Linked DNA regions of Homo sapiens: regions 2 and 3 are each linked to region 1. The links come from fine-mapping of genetic effects on gene expression. A gene starts in region 1. Each other region holds a variant in brackets. All regions are shown on one strand. Distances are between the middles of the regions. Region 1 holds the start of KIF12 (kinesin family member 12). Region 2 holds the start of COL27A1 (collagen type XXVII alpha 1 chain). Region 3 overlaps ZNF618 (zinc finger protein 618).

Region 1 (9,934 bases):
AGACCCTATCCCCATCCTACTCTGCCTCCAGGAAGCCCATACCCTTGCAGTCCATTTGGTCCAGCTGGAACTGCAGGCGACGGTTCTCCTCCTGGAGCTGCAGCATCTCTGTCTCCAAACGCTGGGGCTGCTTTGCCACAGGAGACTGTAGGGAAAGAGGCCCAGAGCCACCTTTATGGTTGTATAAGTCGTGCACTGCACAAGAACTTCCGGGTGTGGGAAGTAACTGGGGCCTAAAATCCAGCCCATGCTTCATTCGTCAGCCTTGCATCTTGGCACAAGGCTGTATCTGCCTGGAAGGGGCACCTTGTCCTAAGTGCACTGTCCTGGAGGGCCCCACTCTGAGCTGGACTCAGCTGTGAGTCCAATCCCAAACTCAGTTCTGTCCAAACCTTGGGCCAGATAATGGTTCCAAACGAGACCCCACATTAGGCCCCACATCAACTCCCACTTAACCATGATACTAACTGAGCTAGACCCTGAATCATATCCCAACTCAAACTCCAACCCTAGACCTGCCCTAAACCTGGCATGACCCTGGCTGGGACCCTGACCCCATCCTATACAACCATGATACCGATTCCAGGATTCCAACCCTAATCCCAACTTTGACCCAGTCCAAGACTTCAATCAAGGGACTCAGGCTCCAACTCCTGCCTGATCCCCCAGCATCTCCACGCCTGTCCCTCAGCTTGTGCCTGCCTATACTCACCTTGGGGGCCTGTGGTCGGGTGGTGACCCGCTGAGCTCGGCTTGCATATCGCAGGGTGCTGAGAGTCTCAGGAAGGCACTGGGCTGAGGGGGACACGCAGGCCACCTGGGGAGTGCACTCCCCCTGAGCGCTCCTCTCTGAGGGCCCCTTCCTCAAGACCCAACCTTCCCTGCCAGGCCCCGCTTAAGTACCATGAGGGTGACCCCGCGCCCTCCCAGTGAGTCTGCCAGCAACTTGGTGAGCTTGCTGTCCCGGAAAGGGATGTGGCTCTGCTTCCGCTGTGGGTCCAGCAGCAGGGAGATGCAGTGACCTGGGGAGGGAGAGCAAGAGTTAGGAAGGTTACATCACTTGCCTAGGGCCATCAGGCTGGGATGCTGCAGAGTTGGGCTCTCCACCCAGGCCTGTGTTGCCCTAAAAACCCATCTTTCCACATGATCTCATGACTCAGTCAGATTGGTCTCCACCACCAGACTGGGACTCTTTGAGGGCAGAGAAGGCCCTGTATACCCTGACCCTCAATGCCCAGCAAAGTGCCTGGTACTCAGGCACTCAGAAGGAAACTTCTAACAAATGGATTGTACACAAAGGAGTTTCGCGGGCATCTCACATGCATGCCACAGAGGAATACTGAGGGCACAGCCCCTGAGGATCTCCAGGTCCAATACCCTGGGGTGGGGTTGGGGAGAAAGCTCAAGTCCCTTCCCCTTACTAGGCCTCAGTCTTCCCAACTGCACAAGGGACATGCCAAATGTCTCTGAGGGTTCATCTTCTGCAGTTGAGTGGTTCTATTTCCCAAATTAGCATGGAACTTTATACACCCTTAGAGTTTATACATTCATAAGCAGTGTTTTACGAAGGGAGAAGTCAACAGCAGAGCTGGGGCCAGAATGGGGCCTTTGGTTCCTGGATCGCAGCTCTTTAACCCTCTTCTATTTACTACAACTCCTCTGGTATCCCCCACTGTGGAGAGCTGTGAGCCAGGCACAGAGGAGAGACAGGAAATCACACCGGTGGCCCCCAGGTCTCACCCAGGGCCAGCAGGCTTCGGTTGATGCTGTTAGCCTCAAGCATCAGCTCCCCACGGGATCCCGTGGCTGCTACCTTCTCACTGCCTGCCAGGTCCACAAAGCACAGCTTCCCACCAACAGGGGGCTCCCCAGGGTCCACAGAAGGCATCTGCTGGGCCTGAGGGATCAGAGCTTCATGGGGACTTGGGAGGGACCGTCCCCATCAAAGCCACAAGGTTATGGGACCAAGAGTTTCCATTATTAACCCCCATGCACACCCAAGTTGGTTTATATGTCCAGATACAGACCCTTGCTTGGTGGCCCCGGGTAAGCACCTTCCCAGGCTGGAGCACTCACAGTTTGACGGCTGATGTAAAGGGTGAGCAGGGCATGGCTTCGGCTGGAGGCCTGGTTCAGGGTGTGGGCTGAGTTCCTTCGACGGCTGAGACCTGGAAGGGAAAAACATCAGGAGCTGGACCTGGTAGGAAGAACAGGTCATCATCAATGAAGAAAAAGGAGCAAAGGAATCCTGGCGGAAGGGTCAGCCTCATGCAAAGGCAGGGAGGCAACAGAGTGGGTGTTGTTCAGGGAACGATGGGATGTTGGGCCCTGCTCTAGCAGAGATGGGTGGATGGAGGATAGAGAAAACTGAGCAGAAGAATGACAGTCAGATTTGCATTTTATAAACATCTCTCCCACTGCTTCGTGAAAGGAAGGGGAGAAACTGAGGCAGGAGATCAGCTGAGAGGTGTGGCACAGTGCTGGGGCCAGAATCCACAGTCAGCATCTCCAGTGCCTGCCAAAGGAGGGGTGCCCAATAAATACTTGATTTAAAAAAAAGAATGAGGCTGAAAGGGCCTTTAGGCTAGGCTAAGAGGTATGACCTTGATCCTCAGGGCCCTGGAAGGGTGGAGGGTCTGGAGGCAAAGAGAGATGGGGTTTGCAGCATAGAGGAGAATGGATGGGCAGGGGAGAGCCTTGAGGTGCAGAGACCACCAGGGAGCAAGAATGAGTCCTGGCGGAGGCCGAGGCCCTGGGCTAGAGAGGAGAGGGTGTGAAAGGAGTTTGGAAGGCAGAATTAGCAGGCCTTGTTGGCAGTGCGGGGAGGCCCTTGGGCCATGCCTTTGAATTGTGGTTTACTGGTCCTTCCCCACCTCCCCCAGGAATCATTTCTGAAGCTGCAGCTGCAGTCTGGGCCCCAAGTCCACACTCAGTGAACAACTGAGGAATGGGCACCCCTACCCGCAAAACTCCCCGCTGTCAGCACACACCCGTTTGCAAAAGTTCCATCAGGGCCTCCAGACTCCCAAATTCCACCACCCGCAGCTGCTCCACATAGAAGCCCCGAGTCTTGTTCCAGCGAACAGGGAGGGGCCGGGGAGACCCCAGGCTCAGCAAGTCCCGAACCTGGGAGGGGAGGGAGGAGGGTGAGGGAAGGGGATCTTTCTGAGTCCACCCATCCCCAGATCTTACTGACAACAGTCCCCACCGCCTCTTCTGTCCTTTGATCCAGGCTCCCTGGAAAGAAGCGCTCCGTTTCCTCATGGGCTGTCTTTCTATTCCTCTCATTCCCTTACCTGCTCATTGTAGATCTCCAGATAAGAGGCGCGAAGGGTGACAGGGGCACCCAGGTGCTGCACGCGGTCCAACAGCCAGGCGAAGGTCCTCTGCATGATGCCAGCCAGGCTGGGGGGTACAGGCACCCCCTCCCCCTAGGGGCAAAACCAGCTGAGCCATCGTCATCTCCACAGTAATAACTACCCTCTGTAGCGCATGTATGATACCGTGCGCCGGGAAACGTGCCAAGTTCCCAAACAATGGCTCATTTAATTCATAGTCGGTACTGTCACTTCCATTTTACAGATGAGAAAACTGAGAGCTAGGAAGGGGCCAAAGTTGAAGCCCAAATGCTCCAAATTGGGCAAGTCCCTTCTCTTTGGTCCTCAGCGTCCTCGTCTGCAAACAAGCGGGTCAGGCGGCGTCGTCCCAGCCCCTTCCCTCTGGGAGTCTGCGCCGCCTGCGGCTCCCCAGGGCTTCCAGCCCACCCAGCCCCGCCCCGCGGGGGCGCCGCCGGCGCTCGCTCACCTGGGGAGGGGGTCCAGTCAGGGTGTAGGTCTTCCCAGAGCCCGTCTGGCCAAAGGTGAAAACAGTGCAGGAGAAACTGCGGGCGGCAAGGGCGTGGCTGGACTCCGGCGGCTACCCGGGGTGGGGGCTGGGGGTGCTTCGGGGCCCCGCCAGGCCCGGCGCGGAGCGGAGGCGAAGCTTCACTCACCCGCGCAGCGCCAGCTCCCCCAGGCGCCGCACGCCGCACGCCCGGAACACGTCCTCCTGCGTGCGCGCCGCGTCTAGCACCGCACCGAAGCGGAACGCCACTTCTGGACCCCCGCCTGGAGGACTCACCTGGCGCGGGTGGGGCGGAGGAGCGGGGCACTCTGGAGGAGGGCGGGGCACCCTGGAGGGGCGGGGCACCGTGGAGGAGGGCGGGGCACGCGGGAGGAGGGCGGGGCACTCTGGAGGAGGGCGGGGCACCCTGGAGAAGGGTAGGGCGCTCGGTGAGGCACTCGGTGGGCGAGCACCCTGGGTTGGGGGTGGGGTGGGGGACACTCACTAGGGCCGGGGCATTCTGGGGAGGGTAGGACACCCTGGAGGGGCGGGGCATTCTGGGGGGGGCGGGCACCTTGGGTGGGCGGGCACTCAGAAGGGGCGGGGCACTCGCAGGGGTTGGCGCGGCGCACCCTGGCGGAGGGCTGGGCATCCTGGAAGGGAGGGGCACTCTGGGGAGGGCGGGGCACCTGGGAGAGGACCACTCCGGGGGAGCGCGGGGCCTAGGGCAAAGTTGCCTGGGGGAAGGGATCTGGCGTCCCCGGGATTTTTTATTGGGGAGATAGAGAGAGGGGTTCCTCACCTGCAGAGTCCGGGTCCCTGAGCAGTGCAGCACGCTCTGCTGCCCTCGACGCAGCTCGGCCGCGCTCATGGGACGTACCCTGGGGTCCGACAGAAGGGCAGATGGTACATCCTGATGTCTTCCTCGATCCTTGTCTCGCCCAGGTGCCTCCTAGCCAATTTATACCCACCTGAGCACCACCTGGATGGGCGTTTCCGGCCCCTCTGGCCCTTGCTCCAGGCTCCGCGCGAGATCCCTGTGGGCAGCAATGCGACTTATCATACCTGCACCTAGCGGCTGTTCAGGACTCCTCGAACCTGTCTGAAGATCTGCTTACCCGTCGGGTGACCCGCGTTCTTCCATGTCCTGCTCTGCACACGGAGTTAGCTCCGCCCGCGTCTCCTTTATTTACCCCCCACCAATACCCTCCCTTCTCCACAACACTGGGACTGTCTACACACATCTTGCATTCCCACCCCATCCCCCATCCCAGGCAGCCATCCATCCGGAAAGACTCCAGCTGCCCAGGGCTAGCTCGTTAAAGATTTACCCTTCCTCACCCCTGCGGTGGAGAAAGTCTCTCCCAAGCTAGGGGACCCCTAGCTAGGGGGTTCTGGAGTCTGAGGATCCCTTGCTCTTGGCCAGTCCTCACAAGAGGAACCCGTGGGACCACCCAGACCGGCCTCCTTTGTGCCCAGTTGGGGATACCTAAGCAGATAGGAAGGACTCAACCAAGGCCACAGAGCTAGCCTGCACAGGACCAAGCTTTTCCCACCCTCTCCACATACCCCCCACTCCCACCCCCAGCAGCTCAGCTCAGGGCCCAAGGAGTGGCACAGGTCTCAGTCAGCTCTAGGGACGACCTGGCTGGATTGAATCTCTGAGCTGACCTGAGAACAGGTTTCCAAGCATCTGGTAAAACACTGGGGCACCTGCCTCTCTAATGCCAAAGTTAATCCTAGGCCAGCATGATTGTTTAACCCTCTCCTGGTCTGGCTTATGAGAACAGCAGAGATGTCTGTGAATGTGCAGGGATGGGGCAATCACTTATTCTGTACCAGTCTCCATGCTGGGCACCAGGGCAGAGGAACCCCATGCAGCCCCTGACCCTTCCCAGCTCACAGTGTGTCTGGGGAGATGGATAAGTACAACCCAGCAGCGTGTAGGGCCTTTAGGGGGAGTACAGAGGCCTGTAGGAGCCAGTGGGGGTGGGGAGGAGGTGAGGGTATTCCAGGCAAAGCAAACAGGAGTCAGGATGGCCAGGGTGGGGTGGGGAGATGAGTGTGGCATGGAGAGGTAGTTTGAGGCTGGATCTAGCTTATGGTGGGCACATCAAGGAGTCTGGACTCACTCTTCAGGGAACCAGGAAGCCATTGAAGGGTTATAAACAGGGATGTGACACCATCAGGTTGGCATTGTTATTATTATTGTCATTCTGGCTGTCTTTGTATGTTCTCTGAATATTTCTGCAAACTCTCCGGCCCCCAAACACACATTAGGGTGAAAGCCCTAAAAATCACTTTTTCTCAATGTGACACATTCTATACCACCACAAATTACAGCCAACTATCAAAGCCACCCTGCTGGAGAATGGGCTGTCTTGGATGGCAGTGAGCTCCCCAGGCAATGGAGATGTATAAGAAAGAGCCATTTGACCTTTTGGTTATAGGACCCTCTAGCAGGGGCCACAGGGAAAGTTCTGTAGAACTAATAACCACTGCCCCCAGCTCTGCCACTAACTTGCCACAGTCTTGGCTTCTCTTGTTTCCTTCCTGTAAAAAGAGATTAATGACTTCTCTCCTATTTGACATAGTTGTTCTGAGATTTCAATGAGATGTGTCATTGAAAGTGAAAGTTGTAAATAATTACCTAAAAACAAAAATAAAAATTCCTAGATGATCTCTAAGTTCCCTTTCAACTCTGAAGTTCCTTAATCTATTTTTTGAGTCCTTGAGGTGGATAAGACAAAAATTACTATCCCTGTTTTTCAGAGGAAAAAAAACTGAACTAAACAGCGAAAGGCAGGGAAAGTTATCTAAGGAGAAAACAACAAATGGCAGAACTGAGAGTTTAAACCCAGAACTATGAGCTGTACATCCTGATGCTGCTTGCTATGGCAAGTTGCTTTTGTCAGGAGTAAACCCAGTAAATGAACAAGGTGCTCCTTTAAAAGCTGTTGAAAGTGTTAAAGACTATCAATCACTAGCATCTTAGTGTGCATTGGTTTAGTCAGATTGCTGGCCCTCCTCAGGCTGGACTGAGATGAGCCACGCTGAAGGGATTTTTGTTTTTTTTGTTTTGTTTTGTTTTGTTTTGGAGATGCAGTTTCTCTCTTATCACCCAGGCTGGAATGCAATGTTGCGATCCTGGCTCACTGCAACCTCCACCTTCTGGATCCAAGTGATTCTCCTGCCTCAGCCTCCCAAGTAGCTGGGATTATAGGTACTCACCACTACGCCCAGCTAACTTTAGTATTTTTAGTAAAGACAGGGAGGGTTTCACCATGTTGGCCAGGCTGGTCTCAAACTCTTGACCTCAGGTGATCCACCCACCTCAACCTCCCAAAGTGCTGGGATTACAGGCATGAGCCACCATGCCCAACCTTGAAAGGATTTTGATAAAAGTGCAGAAACAGGGGATATGTTGCATGCTGGTCAGTGGGGGCTTGTGCACCAGGCTTCCCAACCTGGGTCAGAATGTGTACATGATTTGATGTCCTTTGAATCACAAATGCAGGAGCAAAGTCCTGGTTCTGTTCTCTAACAGTGAGTGCAAACATCTGCTACCCTTAAATTGAACAGTCATGAGCAAGTTTTTATTAAGCCTCCTCTAGGTGTCAGGCAGGTTTCTAGGCACTTGAGATGCATACATTAGTGAACAAAACAGATAAAAATTCTTGCCCTTATGGAGCTTACCCTCTAGTGAGGTGGGAAAGGCAGATAATAAAAATAAGCATATAAATAACTTACATAGTATGTTAAAAGCTGAAAAGTGCTACGGAAATAGTATCACTCAGTGTTGGCGATGGCGAACAGGTTGTTGTTTATATAGTATAGTCATGGAATACCTCATTGAGAAGGTGACTTTTGAGGAAAGACTTCAAGGACGAATGTGAGTTAGTCATGCAAATATTTGGGGGAAGATTATCCTAGGCAGAAGAATTGTCCGATGCAAAGGTCCTGAGGTGGAGTATGACCAGTGTGTGTTCAAGGAATGGAAGAAGGCCAGGGTGGTTGGAACACAGTTAGCAAGGGAAGAGTGGGAGACAAAAGATCATAAAGGTGGCTGGGTGCAGTGGCTCATGCCTATAATCCCAACACTTTGGGAGGCCGAAGTGGGCAAATCACGAGATCAGGAGTTTGAGACCAGCCTGACCAACGTGGTGAAATCCTGTCTCTACTAAAAATACAAAATTAGCCAGGCATGGTGGCACAGGCCTGTAATCCCAGCTACTCAGGAGGCTGAGTCAGAAGAACCACTTGAACCTGGGAGTCAGAAGTTGCAGTGAGTCAAGATGGCACCACTGCACTCCAGCCTGGGTGACAAAGCAAGACTCCATCTCAAAAAAAAAAAAAAAAAAGAAAAAGATTATAAAGTTAATAGGAGCCTGGTTATGTGCAACCTTGTAGCCCACTTTAAAGATTAAATATAAAGAAATATCTAGCACATCTTAAGCTGCTGAAAACCAAAGACAAAGAAGAAACCATAAAAGCAGCCTTAGGGAAAAAACCATAGCCTTCAAAGTAGCAATAAGAAGACTGACAACTACTTTTGAATAGAAACTATGGATGCCAACAGACAATAGACAGTGTATCTTTAAAATGCTGAGATTAAAAAACAAAAATCAACCTGGAATTATATGTCTAGCAAAAGTATCCTTCACAAATGTAGGTAAAATAGACATTTTTGAACAAACAGAAGCTGAGAAATTCACCTCCAGTTGATCATCACTACAAGAAATACTGAAGGAAATTTTTATATGTTGAATGAGATAGAGCTCAAGGAAAAAATAAAGAGCATGAGAAAGAATAAATATAGGATGTATATAAAATCATTTTGAGGCCAGGCACGGTGGCTCATGCCTGTAATCCCAGCACTTTGGGAGGCTGAGGGGGGTGGATCACCTGGGGTCAGGAGTTCAAGATCAGTCTGGCCAACATGGTGAAACCCTGTCTCTACTAAAAATACAAAAATTAGCCGGGCATGGTGGTGGGCGCCTGGAATACCAGCTACTAGGGAGGCTGAGGCGGGAGAATTACTTGAACCCAGGTGGTGGAGGTTGCTGTGGGCCGAGATCATGCCACTGTACTCCAGTCCGGGTGACAGAGTAAGGCTTTGTCTCAAAAAAAAAGAATCATTTTGACTGTTTAAAAGAAAGTAACACTAACTTTTTGCTACCATTATAATATATATAGAAGCAAACAGACATTACACTAGAATAAAGGATAAGTGGAGTGAATGGAGTTAAACCATAGAATTGTAGCATTGGTTCTTCAATTGTTTGGGAAGTGATAAAAGTACTAACTTAAGGTAGACTGTAGTAGTTCAGGGATGTATAGTGACATCTTTAAGGTAACTATCACAAAAACAAGAGTTAAAACTAAGAAGCTAATAGAGAAAAATGAATTAAAACTACTTGACTGATTCAAAAGAAGACAAAAAATGAGATATAAAGTCACAAAGATGTCGGGTACGGTAGCTCACACCTGTAATCCTAGCATTTTGGGAGGCTGAGACAGGTGGATTGCTTGAGCCCAGGAGTTCAAGAGCAGCCTGGGCAACATGGAAAAAAGCCATCTCTACAAAAAATACAAAAATCAGCTGAGTATGGTGGCACAGGACTGTAGTCCCAGCTACTTGGGAGGCTGAGGTGGGAGGATCGCCTGAGCCCAGGTCAAGGCTGCAGTGAGCCGTGATCGTGCCACTGCACTCCAGCCTGAGCAACAGAGTAAGACCCCATCTCAAAAAAAAAAAAAAAAAAAAAAAAAAAAAAACAAAGAAAGAAAGAAAGTCACAAAGAATAAATGGAACAAATAAGAAACAAATAACAAGATACAATTAAACCCAATTATATCAGCAAGTATATTAATTGTACATGGGCTGGACACTTCAAATAAAAGACAAACATTGTCAGACTGGATACAAGAAACAAAATGTTTCTATATTGAAAAAAATGAAAGCCAACTTCAAATTTAAGAAAAGAAACAATTGAAAATGAAAGAATAGAAAGTTATATCACACCAGCCCTAACCAAAAGAAAGCAGTACAGCCACATTAACATCAGACGAAATGGACTCTAATGCAAGAAGCATCAATAGAGACACTGCGAAG
Region 2 (9,934 bases), 55 kb after region 1:
TGTTAGCAAGGACACAACAACAGTGTCCGCCCCTGTTGCAGGGATGTCCTTGGATGATGGTCAACCCACCCCCAGCTCTGCCTCTCTTCCCTCCCTCCTTCCTTCCCTGATTCTTCCCTCCCTTCTTTCCTTTGTCCATCTAAGATTTACTGAGGGGTTCTATGGACATAAGACATAGCCGTAGCCTTGCAGGGCTCCCTGTTGTATAGGTGTGTGGTGTACCAGGCAGGATGGGGGCTGGCATGGCAGAGCGGAGGGAACACCGAGACAGGACTCCAGTGAAGAAGAGCAGGAAGGGCATTTCTAGGCGGAGGTGGCCACAGGAGCCAAGGCCTGAAATCATCAGTTGCTTTCATCCCCACCCTGGGCTGCTGGGGGTGGCCCAGAACTCATCACTAATGGCTTGTCTGGTATAGCCAATGGTTCCGGACACATTACCGGGCAGAGGCCAGAGACCTTAACTTGCCACAGTGCTCACATCTGGAAAATGGATCTAATTCTTCCAAGGATGACTAACTGTGCTGAAGGCTGGAGAGACAGGTTTGACCCTCTGCGGTTAGACACAAAGGTGGGGGGCCCTGCTTCTTCACACCAGCCCCACCATTAACTTTGTGTGGCTTTGAGAAAATCATGAATGCTATCTCTGAGACTCAGTTTCCCCACCTGTAAAATGAGGAATTTGGGCTAGGCAGCTCCATAGGTTCCTCCAGGTCTGAAAAGTCTCACGGGGCCCCACATCTGGGTCAGTGTTGGCCACCATAAGTGGGCTTTGGATCTCACAGCCCTTTGCCACTTGGCCTAGCCCTTGGGAAATAAACCCAGAGAGGGGAAGAGGCAGAAGGGCCCAGATGGTGGGACCATGTGCCTAGAAGGTGCTGCCCTCCCAATGGTGGCCTGGGAGCTTCTTTGACCTCTGCCCTTATTCCTTCTGGTAGAGTGATTGTGTTTGGAATTTTGGCAGCCACCAGGCCAGAGTGACGTAGTCCTGCAGGCAGAACCCAGGCCCTAGGAGACCAGTGGGCCATGAGGACAGCCAGCACTGACTCCAGCCACCTGCCCTGGGGAGAGAAATGGGCCCACATTGCCTGGAGGGGGTGAGAGAGACACTATTAGAATCTGCCTCACTCCAGCCTGGAATTCAGTTCATTTTACCAAAATGCTTTGTCCTGGGTGTTAGGAATACCGCCATGAGCAGGGCAGAGCAGCTCCTGCCCTCAGGGAATGTAAGGTCTACATTTAACCAAGGAATTACAGGAATGAAAAGTCAGTGGGGACCCATTCTTGCCTTCCCATGGTTCTTCTGCTGAACGTGACTCACTCGCTCATTTCTTTCCCCCCATTCTTTCTGTCCTGCTTAAACATCACCTCCTCAGAGAAGGTGATATTTAAATAAAATAGCCCCTATTTAAATAAAATGGCCCCACTCATCATTCTGCCACTCCACGCCCTGCTTAGAGGTCTTCATAGCACTCATTACAACCTGATGTCATATAACAGATTTGTGTATTTCCTCTTCCTCTGTTAAGACAGATGCTTTGTGTGTATGCTCTTCAGTATATCTACAGCACCTAAAATCGGGTCTTCCATATGCTTTGGGTCTGCACGTGCCTAACAAATATCTGTTGGTGGGTGAGGGTCATCATGGAGGAGAGGGAGGAGGTGGCAGCGGGGGTTAACCTGGTCTAATCTGCTGAATTTACTTTCTTTCATGTTTTCATTCAGGCCTTCATTCCGTCATTCGCTCAGCACTTGTGGAGAACTTCCTATGTGCCAGGCACTGTGCTTTGTGTTGTTGTCAGAAGCTAAACAAGGCAGCCGCGTCCAGCAGGGACCACAGCTTGTATTTGCCAGTGGCCAGCTCAGGGCCTGATGCGTGACAGCATCTCCCTACCAGGGAAAGAATGACTCCATGGTTAGACATGTATTGTGTGCGTATCCTTTGCTACACGCAGGGTGGGGCCGCCAAATGAAAGAAAGACCCAGCCTGGTATGCCCACAGCAGTGCAGGGTATTGGAAAGACTGGCAGACTCTAGCTCTTCTCCTAGTGGGAGGAATCTGGTTCTCCTCCAAGCCCTGCAGTACCACTTAAACAGGCTTGATTTGAGGCAGGACTTCCTGACCTGCATTTTTTATCTGTCTTTCTCTTTGCTGGCCTCCTTCCTCAGACCATAGCGCTTCTAGAGCAGAAAACCCAGCCTGGTGCACAGTGGGTCTTCAGAAGCAGCTTGGTGGGTAAACGGACGTGGATTGATACTTGGGGCAGTATGCAACCTCTGTCCTGCAGGTTAAGACTTCCTCTAGGGCCAGGTGCAGTGGCTCATGCCTGTAATCCCAGTACTTTGGGAGGCCAAGGTGGCAGTATTGCTGGAGCCCAGGAGTTCAAGACCAGCCTGGGCAACAAAGTGAGACCCTGTCTCTACCAAAAAACAAAACAAAACAAAACAAAACAAACACTTCATCTAGTGGTTCATTCATAAATATTTTGTGAGCATCTACTGTGTGCCCAACATTAAAGCTATTGCAACCAACAGCTTCTCCTAAGGCAGATGTGCCACAGAGACCGATGGGTCCATGGCTGAGCTGCTTGAGCAGGGAACAAACTATGTGTTCCCTGAAAGTCCCCACCAGGCCAGGAATTCTCATCCTGAGGCATCTACAGAGGCCTGGCAGCCCCTGCCCACCTGGTTCCCAGGCTTACTGCCTTCTGCCCCATAGAAATGGGCCCCTTAGGGCTGTTTGGTGAGTGTGCTGTCCCCTTTGAAGGGTGGGTAATGGCTTGGTGTCTTCCAGATTCAACGTCCATCAGAACAGTTCATGCCCAGTCACTGGCTCTGCGCCAAGAACCTGCCTGGCAGGAAGACTGCTTGTGGGGAGACGGCAGAGGCAGGATACAAGGCCCTTCCTTGGAATTCTCCCCAGTGTCCCTGCCTCCTCTTCTCAGCTGCCCATGAGCTCCTGGAAGGCCATGAGCCTCATTTCCCTCCCGACCTAGCAAAATGCAGTTAGCCCTCAATATTCACATACATAATTGGATTTCTTGTTGAAGGACAGTCTCATGCCTCCAAGCTCAAAGGGCCCACACAGATCATCACGTTTGATGCACCTATTTTACAGATGGGCAGAGTGAGGCTCTGAGAGGGGATGTCCTCAATCCTTTTGGGTTCTCATAGCATTCTCACGGGTCTTTTGGGCTGACCTGGGTGAAGCAGGCAGCATTCCCTGGCACTAAGCCTTGCCTATTCACATTTGTGAGTGAAATTTGGAAAGGCCTTGGTGCTTAGCCACTGACCTGCTGCCTGCCTGACCTTTCAGGAAATGCAGTCCCTTGCCTGGAAATGGCTTTGTGGACAGTGAGTCGTGTGGTATCACCCACACAATACAGTGGGGAGAACTGGACAGTTTCCCCAGTTTCTCACTGGGCCCCACCGCCTCAATCCTCCTTCAAAACCTGCCTGAAATCCAACTCTGTCCTCTTGGTCTTTTTGTGACTCTTTCACCGGAGATGTCCTTCTCCTCTGTGGCTGCACATTTATCCAACACACCCTTTAAGATCCAAATGCCACCTCCTCCTGGGGGCCTTCCTCGGTTTCTTTCCATCCCTTAATCAGCTTCACAATTCAATTGATCTGCATCTCTTTGGTGGCATTTATCACATTCTCCTTATATTATCTTACCTTTATGCAGTTGCAGGGGGTTCTCCATGACATAGTGATGTCTGATGTCTCCCATCCAGACTCTCTTCCCTACCCCAAGTTGCTGTGCGTGTCTCCTGTCCACATTACAAATGCGTGCATGACCAGAAGGCAGGACCATATGGAAATTTTTGTCCCTGCCCCCACAGTGGCAGACCCTTTTCCCCCAGAGTCTTGTACAGGGGTTTGCATACTGTAGGAGTTAAAACAAATAACTTATTTAAATTACCAACGGTTTGAGCATCTATTGTATCCCAGGCTCCATGTGTCAGGCTGGGTGTGGGGACACAGAGATGGATCTGACAATGACAGCGCCATGTGATGTGTGCTGCAATCCCGGTGTAGGGCAGAGCAGCTCACCAGAGTCAGGTGAGCTCTGGCCTGCACCTAGAAGAATAACCAGGTTGTGAACAGGCAGAAAAGGGGCAGAGGGAGAACCTGGGAGGAAACAGTATGGAGAAAGCATCGAAGTAGTCAAGCTTACCTGAGCCTGGGTGCAGGTATCAGAGAGACTGGAGCTCAGGAGGCCGGATCTGAAGCTGGGGAGGCTGCTGAGGATCTGCACAGAACCCCTTAAAGCCTAAGATTTGGATCCTTATGACAAGATGCAGAAGTTTGGAGTTAGGTTACCTGGGTTCAAATCCCACCTCTACCACCTACCCGTTTATGTCAGCTTT[C/T]CCATCTGTAAATGGAGAGAAAAAAGCAGGCCTCCCTTAAACCCCAGCACTGTGTGGGTCAGGGTCTGGACTAGGGTGTGGCACATGCAGAGATGCAGCATACCAGGAGATGCCAAGAAAACTCAGCAACGGAGGTAAATTGCCCAAAGCAGTGCCCCAAACCCCTAAGTAATCAAAATAATATTTTAATTTTTTACTTTTAAAATATTTTTAAAAGTATCAAAATTAATGCAAAACCCCACAATGAACAAAATATCTAAAATGTAAATAAAGACAGGGTCTGCATGGTACCAAGTATGCAACTAAAAAAACATCAGTTATGATTGAAGAGGGAGTTCTCAACCTTAGGGGGCCGTGGACTTCTGAAAACCGGAGGAAAGCCCACGGCCCCTCTCCCCTGAAGAATGCACAAACATGCTCAATTTGTGCACAGTTTGGGGGTGTTCCTGCACTCCCTGGGGTTCGTGCACATGGAAGTTAAGAACTCTGGTTCAACATTGGGGGTGCGGGGGTGGCGGGGGTGGTTCCACGCGCCGGCCAGCAGCCTGCCAGTTCCCCAGTCCCGCGACTGGCCTCCCTCCTGGCAGCCATGGGTGCTCTGCCCTCTGCAGGAAGCAGCGCACAGCTATGCAGCTCCCCCAACCCCCCTACCTCCCCTCTCTCGGCTTGGGACTTTTCCTAAAGTTTGTTGAAACCAGACACCTTGCTCGACCGAGCCCGCGTGCAGCCAGGGTTTAAAAGGCCGCCTTCAGCGCCCCCTCCCCGCCCCCAGCGGAGACTTCAAAAGGCCCGGCGGGCGCCGCCGCCCCAGCACCTATGAGCCGCCCCCAGCTCTCGGAGCCCGCGCCGGAGCCCGTGGACGCAGAGCTGCCGAAGTTCGAGCGCAGGCGGACCGGGTCGGCGGCGCAGTCCCGCGCGCCCATGCCCCTCCCGGTGCCGCTGCGCTCCGCGCGCCCGCGCCCCGTTTAGGGAAGGGGACCTCGCCCCCCGCCCCCGCGCCCACGGCTGCGGGGACCCATGAATACAAATGCCGTTAGGCGCCGGAGGAAGGACCGACCGGCCAGCCTCGCACGTAGGGACCCAGTAAGTGCTTGGGGGCTCCTGGAGCGGTGCGAAGTGTTATATGCCTGTGTGTGCGCGCGCCTAAAGGTGTGCGCGTATGGGGAGGTGGGTACACGCGTGAGGAGTGAATGCGTGTGTGCACATGTGCGGTGGGCACTCTCGGAGAACTGTGTGCAAGTGAGGGTGTGCGCGCGTGTGTCCACCCGGGGTGTGTACATGTGTGGGGGCGATATGGCCAGGATAGCGTGCATTTGTGCCTGTGTAAGCATCCGTGTGCATGCTTCTGCGAGTGTAGAGTATCAGCGTGCGCCTGAGCCCAGATATCTGAGGATGCGTTTCGTGTGAACCTAGGAAGGGTGCGTGGCTGTCCCAGAATGGGACCGTGTGTGAGCGTGTGTCTGAGTTTGGGGAAAGGGTGGATACGTGTGGGAGTGTGTGTGTGCACCGGTGAATAAGTGTAACTTTGCTCGTGAACGAGTGGCAAGAGGTGGTAGAGGCGGAGGGAGCTGTGGTCCCAGGGCTGGACTGGAGTTTTGGGTGTGAGAATTTGCCCGGGGGCCAAGGTGTGCAGCTCTTAGCTCCCGGATGGGATCCGAGGGAGTTTTTGTCGATTCTGGGGAGGTGCGTGGTTAGTGGTGGTGGTGGGGTGCGGTTAGATTCCAATTGCTGACAGAAGGGAGAGAGAGGGTGGCAAACCCTTAACAAGCCCACCCTATATGTTCTCCAGGGCGCTCCGAGTCTGGGAGCGCAAACTTTTGGTGGGCGGTGGGGATCACGATACTGGTTGTCGTGGGCGTCTGGACACCAAGTTCTGGTCCTAGCTCCGTCCCTGAAACTGTGGGTTTCTTCCAGGAGTAGAATTTGGCCCTTCTCCCCTACCCCAACCCCCCATTGGAGGACCCCCAGCCTCACCAGTCAGAAGTTCCTAATCTCAGAACGGTGATCAAATCACCGTGAAGCCCTGGGCAGCCCCTTCCTCTCTGTGAATCTGTTTCCCCATCTATACAAGGAGGAGGGGGGCGGGTGTCCCATCGGGGCTGTAGTGGGCCAGCTGAGGCTGTACCCTTGGCTCCGGCCGGCAGGGGGCAGCAGGGGGCAGCAGAGGGCGGCCGGGAGCGGGGAGGAGGGAAGGTGGAGAGCCACCGCGGGCCGAGACTTTAAATCGCCTTCATTTCCCCCAAATCCTTCCTTTTCCTCTCCTCCCCCAGGCCGGCGGGGAGGCAGCTTCCACCGCCCTCCGCGCGCCCTCACCCGGCCTTGCTCTGCCTCCGGGGACCGCCAGCAGCCCGCCTCCAAAAGTTTGATCATCTCTCTCTCTCTTTTTCTTGCTTCTTCTTCCTTTTTGGTGGAAGCAGAAAAGGACCGAGGCAGGGGCGAGCGCGGCGCCCGGACTCCTGGGACCATGGGCCTGGCGCGGGCGCCCGCGGGGCCCCAGCCGCGCTGCCTGCCTGCTCGGGCGCCCCTGGGCGCGGGGCTGCGCTGGGGGCGCGGGGGCCGCGCGCTCTAAGCCGGCCTGGCGCGGCGGGGCGGGGGGCTGGCGGCCCCATGGGGCGCGCCCACACTTGCCCCCCGGGCTCGGGAGCATGAAGTAGGGGCCTGCCATGGGAGCGGGATCGGCGCGGGGGGCCCGAGGCACAGCGGCGGCGGCGGCGGCGCGCGGGGGGTGAGTACGAACTCGGGGACGCCCCCTCCCTAGCTTCCTGCTGCTCCAATCTCGGGGAGGGCCGGGGTTCCCCGCCATGCGGTCGCTTCCAGCGGAACGTCAGCTTCCTGCCCCTTCCTGCGCCCCCGCGAGGCGGGACGCCAAGGGTTAATAGGGGCTGCGCCCCCGGCCGGGCGAGAGTTGGCGAACGCTGCCCGCCCTGCCGCGCCTGGCCCGGCTGCCCGATCCCGTTGGGGCGGGGGCAGAGCCAGCCCGGGGGTCGGGGGTGGGGGTGGGTGGTGGCGCCTGGAGCGGCCGGCGGGGTGCGGAGGGGGGCTTTTTGGATGCTTGGGGGAGGAGGGGGGTCTCCGTTTGGGGCCGTCTCGGTGTGTTCCGGTGTCTCAGTGTCTGCAGGTCCCAAGCCTGTACGTCTCCGTTTCTATCTGTTCTTGTGAAATTGTCCGCAAGTTTCTAGGTCACCAGGTCTCGGGTTCTGCTCCTGTCTCCGTGTCTGTGTGGCTCTGCACGTCCCCGCGTTTCTGGAAATCTCCGCGTGTTTGTGTTAGTCGGCCTGGGTCTGTGTGTCTGTGTTTCCTGCTTCTCGGTTCCTGTCCCTTTCACGTGTGTAAGAGAGAAAAAGTGAGAGCCAGCATGTCAGAGCAGAAAGGGCCCTGGGCGATCACTGTGCGGAACCCCTCAGTGTACAGATCGGGAGACAGGGCCGGAGAGGGGCAGGGACTCTCCCAGGAGCGGCTGCGCGGAGCTGGGGCCCAGAGGCTGGGATTCCCAGCGTGTGGAGTAGGAGTTGTAAGAGAGAGTGAGCCTGTGCTGGAGCCGGCGCAGCGTGTGGGTGTGTGTGGGAGCCAGCAGCATGCAAGCAGCCCGTTGGGGCCTGTGGACGGCGCTCCTCTCTTTCCATCCTGCCCCCAGGACACCAGGACACTCCCCAGAGGCTGTTAGGGCTGTAGCTGGGCCCTGCCCCCTTTGAGCTGGAGTCCGCGGGATGACACCCCCTCCTTTCTTCCCCATGTCTTGGAAAAAGCTGGCTGTTTGCGATTCCCCCGCCCCGCACCCCCTCACCACAACACACACACACACACACACACACACACATACGCGCGCGCGGCACCAGTGAGCACACTGCTGACTCATTTTCTCCAGAAGACCCTGCGCCAGGGTAGATGCCAGCAGTTGGGCAGAAAAGTGGTGCCAGGCGAGCACCCCATGGTGGGGCTCCAGCTGTGGGCAAGTGGGCAGTCAACACTGCTCGGAGGCCCAGTCTCTGCCTTCTCCTGCCTCCCTGCCTCCCTTGACATCACGTTGTCCTGCATCATGTGCGCTCTGGCGCCAGCATACCTCTGCTCTCCAGCATGCCTCTGCTCTCCAGCATGCCTCTGCTCCTGGACCCTTCTGGCCGGACCAAACTCCATGTCATGTCTATGGACACATCCCTGGCCTCTGCCTCCTTCTGTTTCCTCCCTGTACTCAGAACATTCTCCCTCTCCTGTGCCTCCACCAGCGCTGCGGACCCTCAGCAGCCAGCAGCCTCCTGGTGGTCTCTGTCCCTTTCTGAGCACACTCCCCTGTTCTTTGTTGGCATTTTCTCTCCTCCATCTCTGTCCAGGGACCCTCTTGATACCCACATGCCTGGCTTGGCTACGCAGAGTAACATATCCACTGGTGGTAGGGGACAGCAGTGAGACACTCACAGAATCATGTTGGTGGGAGGCAGGCGGCACCACAGGAGGGCCATGAGGCTTGCCATCAGGCAGGCTCGAGTTTGAATCCTAACTCTGCTGTGCCAGCTTGGGTGAGCCACTCTGCTGCTTGTTTTTCTCTTCCACAAAACCGGCACCTTATTCCTAGCTGGCTGGGTTTTGTGAAGATGAACAGGACCATGCTTGTAAAGGGCTTAGAACAGGGCCTGGCATGTAATAAGTGCTCAGTAAACGGCAGCTGGTATTTGTATTATTCCCTTCATGTTGAATGGGTGTGTGAGTCAATGGGAAAGTTCTGGGCTGCATCCTCTCCAGACGATGACCTGTCTGTGTTCCCATGGAGGACGTGGAAGCTGTGAAGAAAGCCCAGGCATAGCCGTCTGGGCACAGGGGGTCTGGCCAGTCCATGGAGGCAGGTGGGACAGGTCCACCCCACTTGATGAGCTGTAGTTCCAGCTAGCTCCCTTTTCAGCTTTTACCCCATGCGTGAACAGCCAAGCCTAGTGTCCACAGGGCCACTTTCCCTGTGTGTTTCTGTGGCCTGGGTCTCAGCTCAGAGCCCTCAGTGACTGTTGAAGCTGGTGTGGGTTTCTAAGATCCTGTGTGTTTCCAGGTAATAAGGATGGAAGAAAACTATCCAAGCAGTCTGCCGGTTCTGGCAGTGTGGTTACCCAGGAGTAGCCCCATTTGGTGCACTGGCAGAGGGCCTTTTGCAAGGGCATAGAAACACCTGGGTTTCCTCTTTGGAGGGCTGTGTGGCCAGACGATGTTTCCATGTGATGTTTCCTCGCGGCTCCCGTTTCGGCTGCCTCCTGGCCTCCCTGGCCTCTGTGCTCTGGTCTTCCTGACATTCTGGAGCCCTGGGTTTGCAGAGACAAGGCCCACAAGACAAGTGGTGAAAACAGAAGTCTGGAAGAACAAAGCCCTGAGCCAGCACAGGCACTAACCATGATTAGCAGTAGCCTAAACAGGATTGGAACGGGAGCAAAAGAATCGGCAGGGCCTCCCTCTGAGAGCCAACTTTCCAGGCCTGGAGCTGACTTAGATGGCTCGTTGGCTCCCTGGGTTGCATCTCTGTTCCTGCTGGTGAAGGCTGGGGCTCGGGTCTCTGGCAAGTAGGAAGTCCCTGCAAGTCTCCAATT
Region 3 (9,934 bases), 170 kb before region 1:
TCCTGACCTCAGCTGATCTGCCTGCCTTGGCCTCCCAAAGTGTTGAGATTACAGGCATGAGCCACTGTGCGAGGCCAAGAGTCGCAATTTTTAATGAGTTTACATCATAAGGTGGTGGTAAGGATTAAATGAAAGAATGGATATGAAGTGGCAAGCACAGTACCTAGCACATGGGAAGAGCCACATCAATGACAGTTTGTGATAGTATCAATAGGATTTAGCATTGGAGATTTGTGCAGTTTGCCATGTGGCTAGTTGTAGTTTTGCTAAGCCATACATTTGTGTCCCACCTAGCTGAGGGTGACAGTGCTACCTGGGTAGCCCATTTCACAAGTGGAAGTCAGTTGTGTGGTGTGTTTCCCTTGCTAGCATGCACGCTCCATCAGGTTAGGGGCAATGGCTGACCTATTGGTGGCTCCAGCTCAGCATGTGTCTCTTAGAACCTGACACAGATCAGATGTTGAATACCTTTGCTATTTTAAAAAGTTACTTGAGCATATGTATTCATTTATCTTGCAGCTTTGGCATCCATTAGACCAAGGCTGGAATCCTGGGTCCTGTGTCTCCCACCTAATACCTGGGTGTTCCTAGGCAAATTATCTCGCCTTTCTGGTCCGTTTCCCCATCTGTAAAATCAGGCCAGTGTTATGCACCTAGATTCTGCTCTGGACTTCAGAGAGAATGAGTGCAAAGCACACAGGCAAGCCTGTCCCAGGGTAGCATTTGTTGGGGACTGCCTGTATGATGTCTGGTTTCACTGAGTGGAAGGGTTTTCATGAGGTCAGAGATTCAGAGTTGATTTAGCCATCCACATGTTAGGCTGAGGGTGTTCTCTCTTTAGCCAGTCCCTTGAAAGGCTTCTTCATGGTTATGGCCCAGCAGAGAATCCAGTCTGGTTTTCCAGAGTCTCGAAACACCCACATCTGAAGATGAAACCCCGGAGGCAAACAGAGTTAGGAGTCACTGAGCTTGGAACTGACCAGCTGGGAATGTGCTGTGGTCTTCCTTGAGAAGATGGGGAAACAGAACATGATCTGGAAAGAAGGAAGAAGGAACAGCTTCTGTTCTTCTCAGGGGAAATGGGACTTTCTGAACTTCATCATTCTGAAGTGTCCCACAGATCAAATCCTTTTTTTGACTACTCCTTACATAAAATATTTTTATGACAAAGCTTTCTACAAAGCAAAAGATGCCTTCTATAAAGTGAATCATCACTTCGGATGCTTCCTTTGTATAAACCTGGCCTTTCTTATGTTGTAGGGAGGGTTTTTTTTTCCTGTTATTTGTATTATCCAAAGCAATACATGTTCGCTGTTGAACAGTTAGGAAGTTCCAATGAGCAAAAAGGAATAAAAAAATCAAAATCACCCATAACTTTCCCATGCAGAGATAATCACTTTGGATGTTGATTTTTGATGTATCGATACTTTGATGTATGTACTGAAAACACATATGACATGTACATAACTTAAAAGCTTGTTCATTCAAGAAGTATTTATTGAACTCCTACTCTGTGTGTGATCCTGGGGATAAACCAGGGAACAAAAAATAAACACAATTTCTCCAGGGGACAATTTATGCAGATAAAAGGAAGAGAAGAAATTGGAACAGAAATGGGACTGAGGAAAGGCCTGAAACTGATAGTGAAAGTCGTCATGGGCTCTGAGAGTTTTGATCTCACTGTGGAGTGGTTAGGTATGAAATGGAGGGCTGGACGGGGCAGAGGGAAGATAAGTTGGCAGCTGCCCAGAGGGCCAATACCTTCTATCCAAAGAAAGTGGTTGTGGTTGGTGTCCTAAGTTATGTACACTGGCAGACAGGGGCAGGCCGGAGAGGGTTTTGTTTTGGTTTGTTTTTTTTTTTTTTTTTTTGCATGCGGATGCCCAGTTCCAGCAACATTTGTTGAAAAGAGTATCCTTACTCCTTTGAATTACCTTTGTGCCTTTGTCAAATATCAGTTGACTATATTAGTTTGGGTATATTTTTGGGCTTTCTATTCTGCTTATTCTGTCTGTTCTGTTTATTGTGATCTACTTGTTTATTCTTTCACCAACACTACACTGTCTTGTTTACTGTACCTTTATAGTAAGTCTCGAAGCTGGGTAGTGTCAATCCTCCAACTTTATTGTTGTTCTTTGGGATTGTATTGGCTATTCTGGGTCTTTTGCCTTTCAGTATATACACTTTAGAATCAGTTTGTTGATATGCACAGAACAACTTCTGGACTTGTGATTGGGATTGTATCAAATCTTTAGATAAAGTTGGAAAGAAATGAAATCTTAACAATACGGAGTCTTCCCTCCATGAACATGGAATATCTCTTTATTTATTTAGATCTTCTTTGATTTTTTTCATCAGAGTTTTGTAGTTTTCCGTGGATATCCTGTACATGTTTTGTTAAGTATTTATACCTACGTTTTTATTTTTTTGGCACTAATAAAAATGGCATTGTGTTTTTAATTTCAGATCCCAGTTCTTCATTGCTGGGATATGTGAAAGCAATTGACTCTAGTATCCTGCAAGCTTCCTATAATCACTTATTAGTTCCAGTTTTTAAAATGGATTATTTGGGATTTTCTATATGGACAATCATATTATCTGTGAATAAAGAAATTTTTTTTGTTTTGTTTTGTTTTTACAATCTGTATACCTTTTATTTCCTTTTCTTGTCTTACTGCATTAGCTACGACTTCCACTATGACATTGAATAGGAATTATGAGAGAGGACATCTTTGCCTTGTTCCCGATCTTAGGGGGAAGACATTTAGTTTCTCTCCGTTAAATATGATGTTAGCTGTAGGTTTTTTGTAGATGTTCTTGATCAAGTTGAGGAAGTTACCCTCTTTTCCTAGCTTGCTAAGAGTTTTTATTATGAATGAGTGTCAAATCTTGTTAAATGCACATCTATGATATGATCCTGTGACTATTCTTTTTTAGCCTGTTGATGTGATGGGTTACACTATTGATTTTCAAGTGGTAAACCAGTCTTGAACTCTAAGAATAAATCCCATTTGGTCAGGGCATACACTTTTTAAAACATTTTTAGGTTCAATTTTGTACTATTTTGTTGATCATTTATCCACCTTTGTTCAGAAGAGACATTGGTCTGTAGTTTTCCTTTTTTGTAATGTCTTTATCTGGTTTTGGTACAGATTGAGTATCCCTTATCTGAAATGCCTGGGACCTGAAGTATTTTGGATTTCAGACTTCTTTTCAGATTTTGGAATATTTGCATTATATTTACTGATTGGGCACCCTTAATCCAAAAATCCAAAATTTGAAATGCTTCAGTGAGCATTTCCTTTGAGTATCATCTTGGCAGTCAACAAGTTTCAGATTTTGGAGCACTTTGGATTTAAGATGTTTGGATTAGGGATGCTAAACTTGCATTAGAGTAATGTTAGTGTCGTAGAATGAGTTAGGAAGTTTTCTCTCTGCTTCTACTTCATGGAAGAGATTGTAGAGAATTGGTATCATTTTGTCCTTAAGGGTTTGGTACAATTCACCACTTGGACTTAGGGCTTTCTTTTTTGAAAGTTTATTAATTATGGATTCAGTTTCCTTTATATTAATAGATACAGGCATTTTTAGATGATATGTTTCTCCTTATCTGAGTTTTGGTAGCCTGTGTCTTTCAAGGAATTGGTCCATTTTATCTAAATTACCAAATTTGTGGGCAAGGAGTTGTATATAACATTCCTTTGATCATCCTTTTAATGTCCATGAGATCAGTAGTGATGACCCCGTTCGATTTCTGATGTTAGTAATTTGTGTCTTCTTCTTCTTCTTCTTCTTCTTCTTTTTTTTTTTTTTTGGTCTTGGTTAGCCTGGCTAGAGGCTTATCAATTTTATTGATCTTTTCAAATAATGAGCCATTAGTTTCATTAATTTTCTCTACTCATTTCCTGTTTTAAATTTCATTGATTTCTGCTCTAATTTTTATGATTTCTTCTGCTTGCCTTTGGTTTATATTGTTCTTCTTTCTCTAGTTTTCTAAGGTAGATGCTCAGATTATTGATTTTATATTGCATTCAGTGCTATAAAATTTCCTCTAATCACTGCACTTGCTGCTTCCCATAAATGTTGATAATTGTATTTTCATTTTCGCTTAGTTCATAATAGTTTTTAATTTCTCTTGAGATTTCTGCATTGACCTGTGTGTTATTTAGAAGTGTGTTATTTAGTCTCCAAATATTTTGGAATTTTCTGGCAGTCTTTCTCTTATTGATTTCTGGTTTAATTCCATTGTGATCTTAGAGCAGATTTTGTGTGGTTTCTGTTCTTTTAATCTCGTTAGGGTGCTCTTTTGGGCCTAAAATGTGACTATCTTGGTGAATGTTCTGTGTGTCCTTGAGAAGAATGTGTATTGTGGTGTTGTTGGATGCAATACCCTATAATAATGTCAATTAGATCCAGTTGATTGATGATGTTGTTTAATTTAACTAGATACTGATTTTCTACTTGCTGGATCTGTCAGTTGTTGCTAGAGGATATTGATGGTGGATTTGTCTATTTCTCCTTGCAGTTCTGTTTTTGCTTCACATATTTTGTTTCTGTGTTAGGTACATACACATTAAAGATTCTTATGTCTTCTTGGAGAATTGACCCCTTTATCATTATGTAATGCCCCTCTTTATCCCTGATAATTTTCCTTGCTCTGACTTCTGCTTTGTCTGAAATTAATATAGCTACTCTAGGTTTTTTTAATTAGTCTTAGTATGGTATATCTTTCTCCAAACCTTTACTTTTAATCCAAATATATCTGCATTTTTATATTTAAAGTGAGTTTCTTATAGACAGCATGTAGTTAGTTGGGTCTTTTTTTTTTTTTCAATCCTTTCTGATGATCTCTGTCTTTTTATTGGCATTTAGACCATTCACATTTAAAGTGATTGATATGGTATATTAATATTACCACATTTATAATTGTTTTCTATTTGTTGCCCTTGTTCTTTGTTTCTTCTTTTGTCTTCCATTCTTTTTCTCCCTTCTCTGCAGCATTTTATATGATTCTATTTTCTTCCCTTTCAACATATCAATTATTTTTTAAAAATAGTGATTTTCCTTAGAGTGTGCAGTATACATGTACAGTTAATCTGAGTCCACTTTCAAGTAACACTTTGACGCTTCATGGTTAGTGCCACATATCTTATAACAGAGTAGTCCCAATTCTTCCCTCCCTTCCCTTATAACATTGCTGTCATTCATTTCATTTATCCACATGGTATAATCATCCAGTATCCTGTTGGTGTTACTATTTTGAACAAACTGTTATCTGTTAGGTAAGAATGAGAAAAATAAAAGATTTTATTTTACTCTTATTTATTCCTTCTTTAACACTGTCCTTCTCTTTCTGTTTGTTTGAGTTTCTGACCCAAATTACTTACCTTCTCTCTGAAGAACTTTTAAAAATATTTCCTGCAAGGCAGAT[C/T]TTCTGGCAACAAATTCCCTCAAATTTTGTTTTTTGTTATTTCTCCTTCATGTTGGTAGGATAATTTCACTGGATCAGATTTCTAGGTTGGTGTTGTTTTTTTTTTTTTTCTTTTAGGACTTTCAGTATTTCACCTATCTTCTTGCTTGCATGATTTCTGGAGAGAAATCCAATGTAATTCTTATCCTTATTCTTCTTATAAGTAAGGTTTTTTGGACCCCTTTTGCAAAAATATTTCAATATTTTCTTTTTGTCTTTTATTTTCTGCAATTTGAGTATGATACGCTGGGATACAGTTTTTTTGGTTTTTGTTCTGCTTGGTGCTCTCTGAGCTTCCTGGATCTGTGGTTTTGTGTCTGTCATTAATTTTGGAAAATTCTCAGCCATTGCTACTTCAAATATTTCTTCTGTTTTTTCTTTCTTTTCTTTCTGGTATTACCATTACATTTATGCTATACCTTTTGTAGTTATCTCACAGTTTTTGGATATTTGGCTCTATTTTTTACACTCTTTTTTCTCTGTTTTTTCTATTTATGAAATTTCTGTTTTTAGCAATTTCTTTTGATTCTCTCTTAGTTTCCATCTCTCTGCTTATATTATCAGCAGTTCTTGCATGTTGTCCACCTTTTCCATTAGAGCACTTTGTGTATTTTTTACTGGTATTTTAAATTCCCAAATCTGCACTGTAGCTCATGCTTGTAATCCCAGCATTTTGGAAGGCCAAGATGGGTGGATCGCTTGAGCTCAAGAGTTCAAGACCAGCCTGTGCAACATGGTGAAACCCTGTCTTTACAAAAAATACAAAAATTAGCTGAGTATGGTGGCATGTGCCTATAGTCTCAGCTACTCAGGAGGCTGAGGTGGGAGGATCACTTGAGCCTGGGAGGCAGATGTTACAATGAGCTGAGATCGCACCCCTGCACTCCAGCCTGGGCAACAGAATGAGACCCTGTCTCAAAAATAAATAAATAAAAAGTAAATAAATTCCCAAGTCTATGTCATATCCGAGTCTGGTTCTGATGCCTCTTACTGTAGCTGTTCAGTTTTTTGCCTTTTAACATGCCTTATAATTTTTTGTTGAAAGCTGGACATGTTGTATCTAGTAGTAGGTACAGAGGTAATCAGCATTTTAATGTGAGGTTTAAAGCCTTGCATGATGTATTAGGTAAAAGGAACTGAGGTAAATAGGCCTTTAGTGTGAGGTTTTATGTTTATCAGGCTAGGAATTAGGCTGTGTTTACAATTTATTGTAGCTGTCAGTGTCAGAGGCTAAAATTTCCTCTCTGGTCCTTGTTTTTGTCTCACCTGTTGTCTTTGGGTTTCTTTAGAGATTCCTTAAATAGTGACCAATCCTTGTAGTTCTTTCAGCTGTGATCCCATTAGCATACAGGAGTCCTGTTGATGTGGTGCTAAGGACTGGGCGAGGGGTAGTGTTCTAGAATCCTCTCATTGGTTCTCAGTCTTTTAGTGGGCCTGTGCCCCTGTGTCGTGACCTTTACATGTGCTTGTGAAATTTTTCTTTAACCCCTTAGGTGAGACAGGAAGGCTAGAGGAGTCTGGAGTTGGATATTTTCCTTTCCCTTGTGTTGAAAACTAGAGGGGTTGGAGAAGGACATTTCCCTTCCCCCATATCAATCAGACCCTGGTAAAACCCACTTTGGTTAGACCCTAGTAAATAGTTTCCCTTGAGGGCAGGCTTTTGTTGAATAGAACAGTATGTTCTGCAGGTATTTCAAAATGTTACTTTGTCCCTACCCCACCATGAGGAGATTTTTCTTCCATCTTAACTCTGAGAAGCTGGTGAAGCTCATGGAAGTTTTCGTCTTTCAAGCGAGTTCATCAGCTTGTCTTAAGTTGCAATTCTCTTTATTTGCTGTCTCTCCACTTTTAGGGGCAGTGGTTTGCTCTGTGACCTCAGTTCTCTGATGGATCTAAAAAGTTGTTTAGTTTCAGTTTGTTAAGGTTTTTTTCTTGTTACGAGGCATGGAGTGACAGCCTCCAAGCTCTTTACATGTTGGAATGGAAACCAGAAGTTTGTATCATCTCTTTTTGAAAATCTCTTTGTACTTCAGTTTGGATAGTTCCTATTGAACTCTTCCAATGCAGTGATTTTTGTTTTTTATCAGCTATATCCAGCTACTGATGAGCTCATTAAAGGCATTCTCCATTTCTGTTGCTGTGTATCTGATTTCTTGTGTTTTCGTTTCATTCTTTCCTATAGTTTCCATCTCTTTGCTTATGTTAACCATCTGTTTTTGGATGTTGTCTAATTTTTCCATTAGAACCCTAAACATATTAATCGTAGTTATTTACAATTGCTTATCTGACAGTTCCAAAGTCTGTGTCATATCTAAGCCAGTTCTGATGTCTGCTGTCTCTCTTCAGGTTGTGTTTCTTTCCTTGCCTTTTAGAATACCATGTAATTTTTTTGTTGAAAGCCAGACCTGACGTATCTATTAATAGAAACAGAGGTCATGAGGATATTAGTGTGAAGTTTTATGTTTATGTGGCTAGGAACTGTTCTGTGTTTAATGTTCGCTGTAGCTGGAGATGCCAGAAGCTTCAATTTCCTCTTTTCTTTGTTTTTTGTTTTCTCTCCCTTTTCCTGTTGTCTTTAGATTTCCCTAGAAACTCCTTCTTAAATAGAATCTGTGTCTTGCAGCTGTCTCATTTGTAATCCACTCTTATTATATTGGAGTCTTTTTGATGTGGTTAAGTATTAGGGAGAGGAAGTAGTCTATACTCTCATGATTCAATCTCAATTATTATTATTTTTTAAGTGGGCCTGCATCCCTGGGCTGTGATCTTCAGAAAAATTTCATAGCCTTTTCTTCTCCCTTTATGTGAGATAGGAAGGCTCGACAGGCTGGAGTTGTCCAGTTGTCCTTCCCTTAGGTCAGATAAGTCTGTGGTAAGGTAGATTCTTTCAAGGGCAGGCCTTTGCTCTGGAGAACAGCACACTCTATGCTATTTCAGAATGATCACTTTTCCCCTGGTGTATTTTAAATGGTTATTTTCCACCCCCAACTCCACATTCATCTCACTGAAGGACAATGGGATTATTGTCTAATCTCCACCATGAGAACCTGTTCAAGCTCCTGGAGTTAAAATCTATGAAAATGTGATGACTCCCCTAAGACTGGACCCCAGATTTTAACTCTCAAGCTAGTGCATACTCAGCTTCTAGCAGCTAAGTCAGTTACTGTTTAAACGTTCCTACCAGTTACCAGCCCCAGCCACTGCAGCTCCTGGTAAGCTGTATTTCTCTGCAGTTGACTGTCTCTGCAGATTTCAGGGTGGTTTGCTCTGTGGCCTCAATCCTCTGATATATCTAAGAAAACTTGTTGATTTTCAGTTTTTGCAGCTTTTTTCTTGTTGTAAGGATGGGAGTGATGACTTCCAAGCTCTGTACATATCAGGGCTGAAATTGAAAGTCCTCACCTGGTAGGTGTTGATGTTCTCCTATTTCAAAACTCTGCTGGAGGCTGTGGCACCCTTAAATTAGCTGGGAGACAGGGATACAGTAAGGGCTGTGGTTTGCTTAGTATCCCTGCCTCTTGTCAGGGACAAATGTTGGGTGGACCAAGCTGGGCTGGGAATCCTGAATTCAGGTCTGAAATGTGCTCTCTGGGCCTCAGTTTTCCCAGCTTTATAGTGGGGATAAGGCCAAAGCTCTTCCAGTACTCTATGCTTTAGTGACAATAACATAACCTTTAGTTCACTTGTTACCCGAGATAAGGAAATGGTTTTGGAATGAGTTGGTGTTTCATGGCAGTACTTCCCGATGCCAGCTTTGTCTTTATTGTTGCTTTAAATAACAAAATGGCTTTCTAATAAGAAGAGTGGAAATAGCAGTCATCACATGACATTGTATGAATAACCAGTAACTCAGAGCTTGTTTATCTTGGCTTTTTCCCCCATGATGAATGTGTTTTTAAAAGCATTTCCTCTGATAACAGCCTTGGCCTATAGGGCTTTCACGTGTTCTGGGAGGAGTGGAGTGGTCCTAGGTTGTGATAAACCAATGGCCCTCATTCATTCCTCCTTGTTTGCAAAGGAGACCTAGTGTTACACGTTGTCTGTAGGTTCTGAAGCCAAAACATGGGGAAATTGCCTCGCTTCTGGAATTTCCCCCAAGTTTTTTGGGGAAACTGAAATGTATGTCAAGGTTACCTTTTACTCATTTTCTTAGATGTTACTTAAGTCATTTAGGGGCAGGAAAAGCGTTGCACATGCTTTGTTTGCTCATAAAACTTTCATGTTGGGTTTATACATTTAAAACTAGTTAGTTTAAATCATAGTCCCAGTTCTACTACTTGAATTCCCTTAAAAATGTTTAGTTGTAGATATGCATTGAGCTTCATGATGGGAAACTTCATAGGTTTAGGGGGCGCCTATTTTTTTTTAAACTTGTTCAAAAAAAGCAGGCTTGTCCTTGAATGGATAAGAAATTATTGCCATTTTAGGCAAACAAACTCAGAGGTGTAATTTCTATTTTTAAGG

Evidence for each region. PIP is the estimated chance that this variant, and not a neighbour inherited with it, causes the effect.
Region 2: its variant is fine-mapped to the expression of KIF12 in hippocampus (GTEx, PIP 0.91).
Region 3: its variant is fine-mapped to the expression of KIF12 in unexposed skin (GTEx, PIP above 0.99).

The regions. Positions count from the first base shown.
Region 1 is chr9:114,094,311-114,104,244 of GRCh38, forward strand. KIF12 (kinesin family member 12) reads right to left here and starts at 4,982. Exons shown (of 19, transcript NM_001388308.1): 1 at 4,941-4,982; 2 at 4,794-4,859; 3 at 4,625-4,703; 4 at 3,992-4,119; 5 at 3,805-3,880; 6 at 3,297-3,431; 7 at 2,991-3,126; 8 at 2,077-2,168; 9 at 1,741-1,897; 10 at 904-1,022; 11 at 713-817; 12 at 43-145. The coding sequence starts at 4,966. LOC124902251 (a long non-coding RNA gene) reads left to right here and starts at 4,045. Exons shown (of 2, transcript XR_007061740.1): 1 at 4,045-4,128; 2 at 4,768-6,509. RefSeq lists an enhancer at 4,771-5,306.
Region 2 is chr9:114,148,918-114,158,851 of GRCh38, forward strand. It overlaps COL27A1 (collagen type XXVII alpha 1 chain), which reads left to right and starts at 6,620. Exons shown (of 61, transcript NM_032888.4): 1 at 6,620-7,095. The coding sequence starts at 7,034. It overlaps LOC105376225 (a long non-coding RNA gene), which reads right to left and starts at 5,351. Exons shown (of 5, transcript XR_930256.3): 1 at 4,178-5,351; 2 at 3,923-4,080; 3 at 3,676-3,770. RefSeq lists an enhancer at 4,427-4,948 and silencers at 6,485-6,604, 7,492-7,786. The variant C/T (reference allele first, on the strand shown) is at 4,371.
Region 3 is chr9:113,920,626-113,930,559 of GRCh38, forward strand. The region is part of intron 1 of ZNF618 (zinc finger protein 618); the gene reads left to right. Among named protein-coding and RNA genes, the nearest start is that of ZNF618, 49 kb to the left of the region's middle. The variant C/T (reference allele first, on the strand shown) is at 5,432.